Regions from separate parts of the Homo sapiens genome. Here region 1 is linked to region 2. Evidence: fine-mapped expression QTL. Tissue or cell type: testis. Region 2 holds a variant in brackets; the other region holds the start of a gene. All regions are shown on one strand. Distances are between the middles of the regions.

What was found. PIP is the estimated chance that this variant, and not a neighbour inherited with it, causes the effect.
Region 1: it holds the start of RAPGEF5, and the variant in region 2 is fine-mapped to the expression of RAPGEF5 in testis (GTEx, PIP above 0.99).

What each region holds. Positions count from the first base shown.
Region 1 is chr7:22,354,419-22,359,644 of GRCh38, forward strand. RAPGEF5 (Rap guanine nucleotide exchange factor 5) reads right to left here and starts at 2,736. Exons shown (of 26, transcript NM_012294.5): 1 at 2,412-2,736. The coding sequence starts at 2,642. RefSeq lists an enhancer at 2,012-2,081 and silencers at 2,202-2,431, 2,492-2,881.
Region 2 is chr7:22,212,731-22,217,956 of GRCh38, forward strand. The region is part of intron 9 of RAPGEF5 (Rap guanine nucleotide exchange factor 5); the gene reads right to left. Among named protein-coding and RNA genes, the nearest start is that of RAPGEF5, 140 kb to the right of the region's middle. The variant G/A (reference allele first, on the strand shown) is at 2,853.

The sequences.
Region 1 (5,226 bases), 140 kb after region 2:
GCATTAGCATCACTGCCCAATCCAAGGTGGTTAACCAGACAATCCCAGATGCTAACAAGTCACCAACCAACCAGTCTGATACATATTCTACTTGTATCTCTCTTTCTTTCAAACCCCCTGTGTTTTGGACTGTTAAGTGTATGCCCCCTACAAAATTCTTATGTTGAAGCCCTAACCCCAAACATGACATTATTTGGAGATGAGGCCTTTGATAATTATTTAGGGTTAGACTAGGTCATGATGGTGGGGCCCTCATGATGGGATTAGTGGCCTTATGAGAAGAGGGAGCCCTCTCTTCCTCTGCGTTTACCAAGGGAAGGCCATGAGAGGATATACGAGAAAGTGGTCATCTGCAGGCCAGGAAGAGAGCCCTCACCAGAAACCTAATCAGCCTACACATTGATCTCAGGCTTCCCAGCATCCTGAGCTGTGAGAAAATAAATTCCTGTTGTTTAAACCACCCAGTCTACGGTATTTTGTTATGACAGCCTGAGCTGCCTAAGACAAGTTCATATTTCACTTGTTTTTCTCCTTCTTTCAACCCCCTTCCTACTCCTTTGATGGGGAAGATTCCAAAATCACAAAGGTAGTTCCAAGGCAGAAGAAAGGGGAAATAAACAGTCAAATAAATAGTCAAAAAGTATGGGTTTCCAACACTGGAAAAACTGACAATCAAACTTCCTTCAATAAAAACTGGCTATGCAGTTACGAAATGTGTTTGGAAAGTCCCAAAAAGAAATAATACAGTATTAGAATCAAAGAGGGTTAATAAAGCATACATTATCTGAGGTAACCACATTCAGAGTAATTAAAAAATAAAACTAAATAGGTATATTGACAAGGTATACGACACCCTCCCAGGCAGCAAGAAACATGAGTATGAACGCAAATAAATACTATAGATCTATTTATACAGAAACCCTCAGCAATTCTTGTCGCAGACTGCCTGGCAGCCCTCATGTCTTCAGTATTCTGTGCCATGAAAAAGTAACCGTCAAGGATAATAGAAACATAATTTGACCTACTTTTCCCTGGATTCCTGCAAAGTCTATAACTCCAGTTCTTGTTTATTCCGACACCACATCTTGGGGACACATTTCCTCACTTACTTTGCAGGCAATCCTAAATGCCACACATGTTAAGGTCACTTGTGGGCAATTCCTAAACTCTCTGGGTCACCGACTTTAAGAATGTCCCATCACACACAGAGAATCCTCAGAACATCTTCTGAGATGGACCTGGGATGGACCATTTTCCACCTGAGATGGAAAATGCCTAGGAAAAGAGAGATGCAGCCTCGAGAAGCTGAAGACCGACATCAGTTCAGACCCTTCCCTACCCAAAGGAGGGCGCATGAAAACAAGTGGTTATCCCTCACTCTCAAGTTTACACAAACCCATCTCTGAAAGAGCTAGAAGTCTCCCAGCAAGGTCTTGTTTTAAGTCAGACAAGACTGCATTTTAAAAATTACAGCCAAACGGGAAAGAAAAACCACATTGATGCAGCTTCTCATTAAAGACCACTTAATAATAAATTTTTAAAAGATGAGTAGAACCCACCAAAGGTGCCGCCAAACCCTGGTGAGCAGGGAAATCTGAGTAAGTCAGCTCTGTGTCCTGAGGCCCTGGCGGGGCCTCCTAGGTGGCTTCTTAAAGATCCCAGGAGACAATCAGCAGACCTTCCTGCTTCTCTTAAAAATACAAAACATGCCTGACCTGCTCAGGTCATTAGATGCACTTAGAACTCAATGAGGGACACTCCTTCACCAGGAAATCGTATCTGAACACACCATCAGGAAGTCAATATTGAAGGTTCTTGGGGGCGTGCACCCTCCTGCTCAAGAGGGTGTCCAGGAGTATTAAGTGCTGGAGACACCGGAACCCAGGAACTGGAAGCTCACCCAAGAGCTTCCGACTCCTGGGTCTGCCCCTCGGCGGTGGAGACCACCAAAACCAGTCTCGATGCCCAGAGCTTGCAACAGCACCTCCAAAACAAGCACACACGTCGCATGCGTCCTGCAAACAGGGATGCCGCTCGTGGGGCCTGAAGCTTGCGGTTGGGACAGGGCTGGCTGGCTGTTGGACGCTGGACACCTGCAGCTTCCCCTCCGAGAAGAGGCAAACAGCTCGTCTTCAGCCGATGCCCGGTCCCGCAGCCTGAATCTGGGGGCCCTGGGGTTAAGTCAGGTGCAGCCTGGTGGGGGGGAGGTGTGGGGGCGGGGGAAGCCGTCGCTCAGGGGGTGGCACCTCAAAACCCGCCGTCCCGGGCCCCTCTTCAGCCGAGTCCGGCAGAAGGGCGTCCCTTCCGCCACCTCCCCAACTTCCAGACGCCCCCCTCAGCGGCCCGGGGGGTGGGCGCGGGCTCCACGTGCGCGCCGCCCGTGCCCACTCGGACAGGGCCGGGCCACTCACCCGGCCCCCAGCGGCGCTCCGCTTCCTCCGCAGCGTGAGCCCGCTCCGCAGCAGCGCGGGCAGGTCCCTCAGCCGCGGCCGCAGCGACGCCGGCGGCTGCTCGCGCTCGGGCTCCCGGGCGCTGGGGCTGCGGCGCAGGGGGCCGTCTGCCGCCACCACCGCCGCCGCGGCGGCCAGGGCCGGGCTCTCGCACGGCGGCTGCATCTTGACGGAGCCCACGGCCATCCTCATGCCCTGACGGCGCTGCGGCGCCGGGGGCTCCTCTCCACCGCGCTCGCCTCCGCGCGCCGTCCGCGCCTTCGCCAGGAAGCGAGAGGGCGCGACTGCGGCTCGGGCGCGGGGCGCGCTGCCAGCCGCTGCCCATTGGCGCGCGCCGCGGCCCCCGCGAGGCTCAGCCCCGCGCGCCTCCCCTCCCCTCCTCTCTCCTCCCCTCCCCGCCCAGGTGCGCGGGCCCCGCCCCGCCCCGCCCTTTCGCCTGCGAAAGCTGCCTGGGACCTGTCCCCCTCGGATCTCCCACTCGGGACCCGGGAGGAAGAGGGCACCTTGGGCACCGGCTCATCCACAGGTGCAGAATTCCCAGAATCTCCGGCAAACCCGCTCTTCTGTCCTGTCCCTGTCCCCCTACCCCTTAGGCTGAAAAGTCCTGCTTCACTTCTTCGAATAGCCAGGGGTTGACTTGGACTTCAACCAAGTGTGCTGGAGAGTCGTCCGCCCTCCCGCGCGTTTTGCACAGCCTGGCCCCTCATCGTAATCTTTACTCCTGGGAACTGTTTTGGCCAAGGAACTTCAAAATAGACACGCTACAAGGCAAACACCATGAGGCAAAATTGCTTTGCGCCGACCCTTCTTGGCACACGCATCCTTAAAGGACGAAGGGAGAAAACTTTTGTTGGTTATGATAGGTGTTGAGCAGAGTAGCTGCAAGTCTGGTGACCTGAAGGTGAATCTCTGTTAGCATGTCAGAACCTGACCTTCCCTGAAAGCCCGCTGCTGTGATGAATGTGCTTGGTGAACTGTAAAGGCCTGCCGTGGTGTGAATCATTGTTTACACCCTTCCAGGAGGCAGGAATTCTGGATCATTGAGAGTGAAACTATTCCAGCAGTGCCTTAAACGCCAGGGAGTGTGAATGTTCACATCTCAGCTCAATCTGTCTTCAACAAGGGCCAGCCAGGGTGTTGACTTCTCATCAGTGGGGCGCTGGGATCCCCATCTTTGTCTAAGACTTACAAAAGTTGAATAAGCTTATTCACATTTTTAAAAAATGACAAGAATCGTAGGAGGTCAGGGTCCAGAGTTGGTTTACCATTGTGCCCTCAGCCACTCACATGGTAGGTGCTTGGCAAATATGTATAAAAACATGCCATGTAACAAAAAAGGAGGAACGAACTGTGACCTCTGCCCTTAAGGAAGGTAAGACTTAACCTAGGAGTAGACAAACATCCAGAAAAACAAAGATATTGCACTTGTACTCTTGCTAATTGCCAAGTAAGTGTAGGTAAGACCACTTCAGGCCACAGGAGAGAGAAATGCTTCTGGCCTGGGATGGGCAAAGCTAAATCCACGAAAGGAAGGAAGTTTAAACTGCACCTTAAGGGTGAGTGGGGAAGATTCAACCAGGCAGAAGGAGGGTAGGTGTCCTTCAAGTAAGGAAGAAAGACATGAGGCCGGGCGCGGTGGCTCACGCCTGTAATCCCAGCACGTTGGGAGGCTGAGGCGGGCGGATCACGAGGTCAGGAAATCGAGACCATCCTGGCTAACAAGGTGAAACCCCGTCTCTACTAAAAATACAAAAATTAGCCGGTCGTGGTGGTGGGCGCCTGTAGTTCCAGCTACTCGGGAGGCTGAGGCAGGAGAATGGCGTGAACCCGGCAGGCGGAGCTTGCAGTGAGCCAAGATTGCGCCACTGCGCGACAGAGTGAGACTCCGTCTCAAAAAAGAAAAAAAAAAAGAGAGAAAGACATGAGAAAAACACAAAGGTGGTATCACACAGAACTCACTGGGCACTGAAAATATGTCATGCTAGTGAAGGGAAAGATGACATAATGAAGAAGTAAGAGAAGATACCAGAATGGATGCTAGTAACACACTGCAGAAGGCCTTAAACCCTGTCACCTTAAGCTGTGTGTGTTAACTGGAAAGGACTTTATAATAGGACTCCATAGTCCATTACAGTTTCCAAATACCTATCACATGCATTTATCCAAGGCTGAAATTGCATTTGTATGTTACCATGTCAGACTCTATCCGTTTTTACAGTGTTAAGATATTGCAGCTCCAGTTGGTAATTGGTCGTTGTCTTGAGCCCCAGAGTGCCACTCACCCCCATACCTCCAACTTCCCCATGACATACAACTAAAGGGTGAACACCTGGCCCACTAGAAGCCCTCCAGGACACTCAGATTAGTGGGTGCTTGCGCCCCATCACCCCAATGACAACATTGAATCATACCATGAACTTACTCTACTCCAAAGTAGAACACGTGTTCCGTCTCCTGGTCCAGGTTCCTGGTCTTCAAACCCATTCACACAGTTGCTCAATGCAAGGCCAGCATTCCTTAGATTCTATGGGATAGACCAAGCGTCTAAAGTTCAAGAAGGGCCTTTGGAAAATTGGTTTAGGTTAAGGTGATAAATGACAAATGCCATTTAGCTTCAGGATAAAAATAGGCAAACAACAGGGAATAGTAGGATGTGTACACAGAAGAGCCACGTCACTGTTTAACTCAAATCAAGCAACCTTTATACTCGCTGTGCCCTGTCTGGAATGAGAGTCCTCTGCAATGCTGTCCAACAGAACTTTCTACAATGATGCAC
Region 2 (5,226 bases):
GACACCAGACTACATGGTAGTAACACTGTTACATTAATGCAGATCAGGCCTTGATGGGGGTAGAGAAGAAAAGAATATAAGGTCACCTGGGGTCTGGAGTGAGATATACCACTGGGGGAGGAGGGTGATGGCAAAACAACAGTGGCAAATAACCTGCTTTTCAATACTTCACTTTAATGATTTTTCAACCATATTGCAGATGATATGGCTATTTTAATTTTACAAGAATAAGAACCTAATAAAGCTAGGAGCAGCATTTGTACAGCAGAGAATAAAAGGACCCTTTGATAACATGAGTTTGATAAATCAAACAAACTGAGCCAGTATCAATGTTCTTGATTGAGCCTTTTAAAATAAACTTGAGCACCGTCAAAAAATAGCATAATGACAAATTCCTCTCTCTTCAAAACCGCTCAAACTAATTTTTTAAAAATGTTAGGACTTGCAGTGGGCTTCTTGTGAAAACCTAAAAATACAGCTAATGAGCAGATGGTTCCACCAGACAGCAGGAGCACACCACTGACTTTCACTGGCAGTTAACTGCTATTTTTCTGGAGGAAAAGCTAGAATTTAAAGAGCACACACAGTGAACCAAACTTGTAAACCTTGTTCCTAAATAAATGAGAAGAGCATGGTTTGCTGCAGTTGTGAAATGTGTTTGCCAGATTTTACTTCCCTCTAAATGTCTTATTTAGAGACTTCATTAAATGCTGTCTTGAATGGTTAACTGTTTTCCATGTATAAATTCTTTCCCCAGCTAGACTGTAAACTTCTTGGAGGCAAGAACTAGCTACTTCTACTTTTTTGTTACTCTGTGGCCATATTATTCCCTATTAAAAATGGACTATAATAACTCACTCCAGGAAGCCTAATTCCAATGGAAAGATACTTTAATACCAATCCAACACAAAGTCAGGATTTTGTTATTAAGAAAAATAACCTGGTTTCAATGAGGTGATTTCTCAGTTTATAATTGGGCAACTTAATGTATTATGAATTGCCTATTATACCCTAGTTGTGACTTTCAATTCTATTACAGTAATGTTAGAAAGTTCTACTTCTCTTTAGTAAGTAGTTTCTTGGTTAAACTAAATTACTGATAAACTTCAAATAATGCTGGGATTGCTTGAAACTACTCACCTAGATGTACAATTATAAGTTTGAAAACAATGATCAAACCTCTTTTCCTTTTAGTATTTCATATAGAGTAAAAAGAGGATTTTCACCTTATATTTAACTGCTTAAAAAGAGACAAAATGAAATTTGGGAAAAGGTAGAGACCAACTTTTAATATGTAAATAAGTGTGACAGTAGCCAGAATACTCCAAACCACTTCTCCCCTCGTAATCCTTAAACAAGGAACCTTTGACGTAGGCAGAATTCCAGGATGAGGCTGCAGGAAACAGGGAAAAGGAAATTCCGGTTGAGGCTGAGTGATAGAGACCCTACCCTGGCAGCAGACTGTGCCAAGATGCAGTTTCAGAGTGTGCAAAATCCCCTTCCCACCCATCCATATTTCATGAGTGAATTAGAAAAGGGGAAGGAAGTAGGGTGGGTCCCCAGACTTAACAAAGGAACAGAAGAAAATGGGGTGGGGCAAGGGAGGGATACAGACAGGATCCCTAGGGAAAGTATTGCTGAACCAAGTTTTCACATACATTTTACAGATACTGCTCATTTCTACAGTTGGAAGTCAGGAAGTCAGGTTAGGAGCTATTGTTGGTATTTCTAATCTACAATTTAATACACTACAAAGCATAAACTACATTTCGGGAAAATACAGGTTCAGTTTTCTGGTGAATAGTGCAGCTATATTCCTGGAAATAGGACCCACATCCATCTAGTCATATACTTTGATGTAACTATTTTACTGAAAATAAAATATGAAAAGTTTATAAGCTTTTCAAATCTAAGTTACGACTGGGCAAGCACCTTTTCTTTTTCTGCATTCCCGCCCCCCAACCCCCATCCCTCCCTACGTATTCTTTCTGTCTCTGTCCTCCAGAGCTGCCCTCTGAGTGCATGCCCTCTTTCGAAGGACTGCTGTGGTTCCGGTTACCTTGGCTTCTGGGCCACCTATCAGTCCTCACTCCAGTGATGAAGGCTGAAGGAAGACACCCTCCAGAGGCAATCAGACTTGAATTCACTCTGGCCCCAAGTCTGCTTAATCACTCTTCAGCTCCCTCACTATTCAGTCACTGTTCAGTCAGATTGAAATAATATAATTTATCTCATGAAGGCCCTGCCTCAACCATCTTCCTTAGGAAAAGTTAGAACCCCACCTAACAATCTGTCAGTGAGATAAATACTAACATCTCAGCTACCTGAAGCAAACTGCAGGCAAACAAATGCTGAGTCGTTCCTCATTATTTCTAGAATGAAGTAAAACTTCTCAGCCCTCAAAATCCTCCACAGTCTGGTCCCAATCTCATTTCTCATGAAATCTTCCTTCTCCTGCCTCCCCTCCCACACCCCCAATTCTTGGTATTCTGGAAACATGAAATCGTTTCAGAGTTCCAAAAAACATCTAATATTTTGGTATCTCTGTGCATTTTCTAATGCTATTCTTCCCACTAGGAATACTCTTCTTCAATGTGGATTCTTTAAATCCAACCCAAAACCTAATTTAAGGTCCAGGTCAAACTACTTCTGCCCTATGAAAGAATCCTGCTTTCTCAGGTGTAAATTCTTCTTCAAACTCCTATGTGTCTCTCTTGGGATTCTCTTCACTGCTTCCTTGTATCTCAGTTAGTTGTGTTGATATCTTTCCTCCACAACTAGACTATACTTCTTGAGGGCAGGAGCCACATAGTTGGGAGCCACCATAGTTAGCCTGGCTCCTCTATGACATC[G/A]GCTTGAACAAAAGTTAGCAAATGAATGGATGACAGAGAGTATTCTAGAATAGAAGTATAGTAACACCAACTCAGATTACAGAGATCAGGAGAGCCACCCTAAAATCCCAGTTAATTCTGAGGAAGGCACACATATTGCAGCAAATGCCAAAGCTCTGGCCAAATATGTCGGTTTATTTGGGAGCTACCAGAGATTCTCTCTGTTTAAGGTATTTTCAAAGGGTTCTGGAAAGAAAAGTTTGTGTAGTCCCCATAGTGTTTGCCAGAACCCCACCTAACAATCTGTCAGTGAGATAAATACTAACATCTCAGCTACCTGAAGCAAACTGCAGGCAAACAAAGCAAGGGAAATGGCTTACATAGCTTTTTGGCAAAGGTGGTAAGAAACACAACATTCTTATGTCTGCCACTATACCAAAGAATCCTTACAAATTGCTTAATATAAAATAGCATGCACATCCCCCATTGCTAGTCACTGAATTCTGTCAATTTTACTGTGTAAATGACTTTCCACATTTACTCCCTCCTCAGTTCTTATGGTCATTGCCCCAGTTCAGGCTGGCACCTCTCACTTGACTCACTATGGTAGCTTTCTAAAGGTTCTTTCCAACATTTCCCTCTTCTTCACTCAATTCTTCCTCTAAAGCAATGCCAGAGAGATCTTACAAAGGCCACATCTGATTATGCCACTTCCCTTCTTTGATGGCTTTCCTTTGACCAAAAGGCAAGTTTAAGCTCCTTAGGGTAGCTGGTAGACTTTTTTAGCTTACCAGTCTTTCATAATGGAATTTTAGGCTGACTCCCAGCCCACCCCTCTCCATTCCCTAGGAATCACCAGGACTGCAGTCATGTATCTTCCCATGGGTCCCTCTGCCTGAAATGCTGTCCCCTGCCTTCTTCTATGACCATTAGTCATTCTTCAGGGTCAAGCTCAAAGGTCCCCATCTGATAACACACGTCCCTTGCTCTGTTGGCACAGTCACAGAATTAAGGCTAGGAAATACAATGCCTACATCAGAGATAATTTCTTTAAAGAACCAACAACTCAATGTTAACTCTACTATCATAATGTTTAGAAGACACAGCCCATTTCTTTCCCCTTCTGAAAGTCCTCCCATAATAATTTTCAACACATAGGAATGAGTGCTTGCTCATTGTGCCTACAGCTAGTTAATAGAAAATAGAAAAATGGAGTGCTTCCTGAGAAGCTTGCGATAATTATACATTTAACTTCTTAAATTTCAGAAACACCTTGGCAAAAGCATAGAGTGAAGCATTTCTCTAATGGCATGCATTTATAATCACAGCATTTAGCAGTTAAGAAAATATTAGAAATGCCTACTGAGAAAGCTGTAATCCCCTTCAATTTGTAACAAGATGTACCAGCAACAAAGGCTTTATTCTATCAAATTTATGTCTTTGCCTGTGCAGTAGTGCTACAAATTAGCTCTCTCTTTGGCATCTATGTGGCATTCTAGAACTGGAAAGTAATGAAGGTTAGTCAAAAGAATGACTCAATAGGCAACTTGGATTCTAACTCAAATTTTATCACTGTCGACTTAACTAGCTTTGGCCCAGGAATGGTGGATGAAGTCGATGAAGCATTTTAAAATCATAAAAGAAAGGAAATCTGTATGTAACTTCAGGGTTTGGTCATTATTGTTATAACAAGAAGAGGAAACTGCAGACCTAGGTTTACGTTAAGTAAACTGCAGTTTCCTCTGTCCATGCTGTGTGTCAGAACTGAGTTTCTATGAAGAGCAGATGACTGCTACTGTAAAGAAAGTGAGGACAGGAAAAACGAAAACACTGCACCACCTTCATGAACACTGTGAACTTAAGGGGTAAGCAAAGGTATAGGCACATCAAATGCCCAAGACATAAAAGATTGAAGTGAATTAGCAGGTGGTTTTTATTCCTAATAAATTACTGCAAAAACTGTAACCATCTAGTACCAAATAATTCATTTAGTGGAGGACTACATCAATATCAGCCTTGAGAGTTGAAAGATTCCACTGGTGTCATCCTGCAGAAGGGAGATGACAGAATGGCTTTGTTTATATTTATCACTAGAAAGAAAGATCCCTAATATTCCTTTCCTTATTTTAAGCTTCACAGGAAAGTCTACATAGAAAAAGTCATAATTCCAATGTTTATTTACACACCATCTTTCCTCTCAGAAACAAAAACGTTTCAGAGCTGTTAATGCACCCATGATATGACAGTCACGCAAGAAGTAAAAAATGTTAGTGTTCTGTTTTACAAGTGAAATGAAGGTTTAAAGGTGACAGAGCAGATAACCAGAGCAAAGCTGCAAATCTTCAATCACTAAATTTCTGCCTCATGTTAAAAGCCTTTACAATTATCAGCCCCA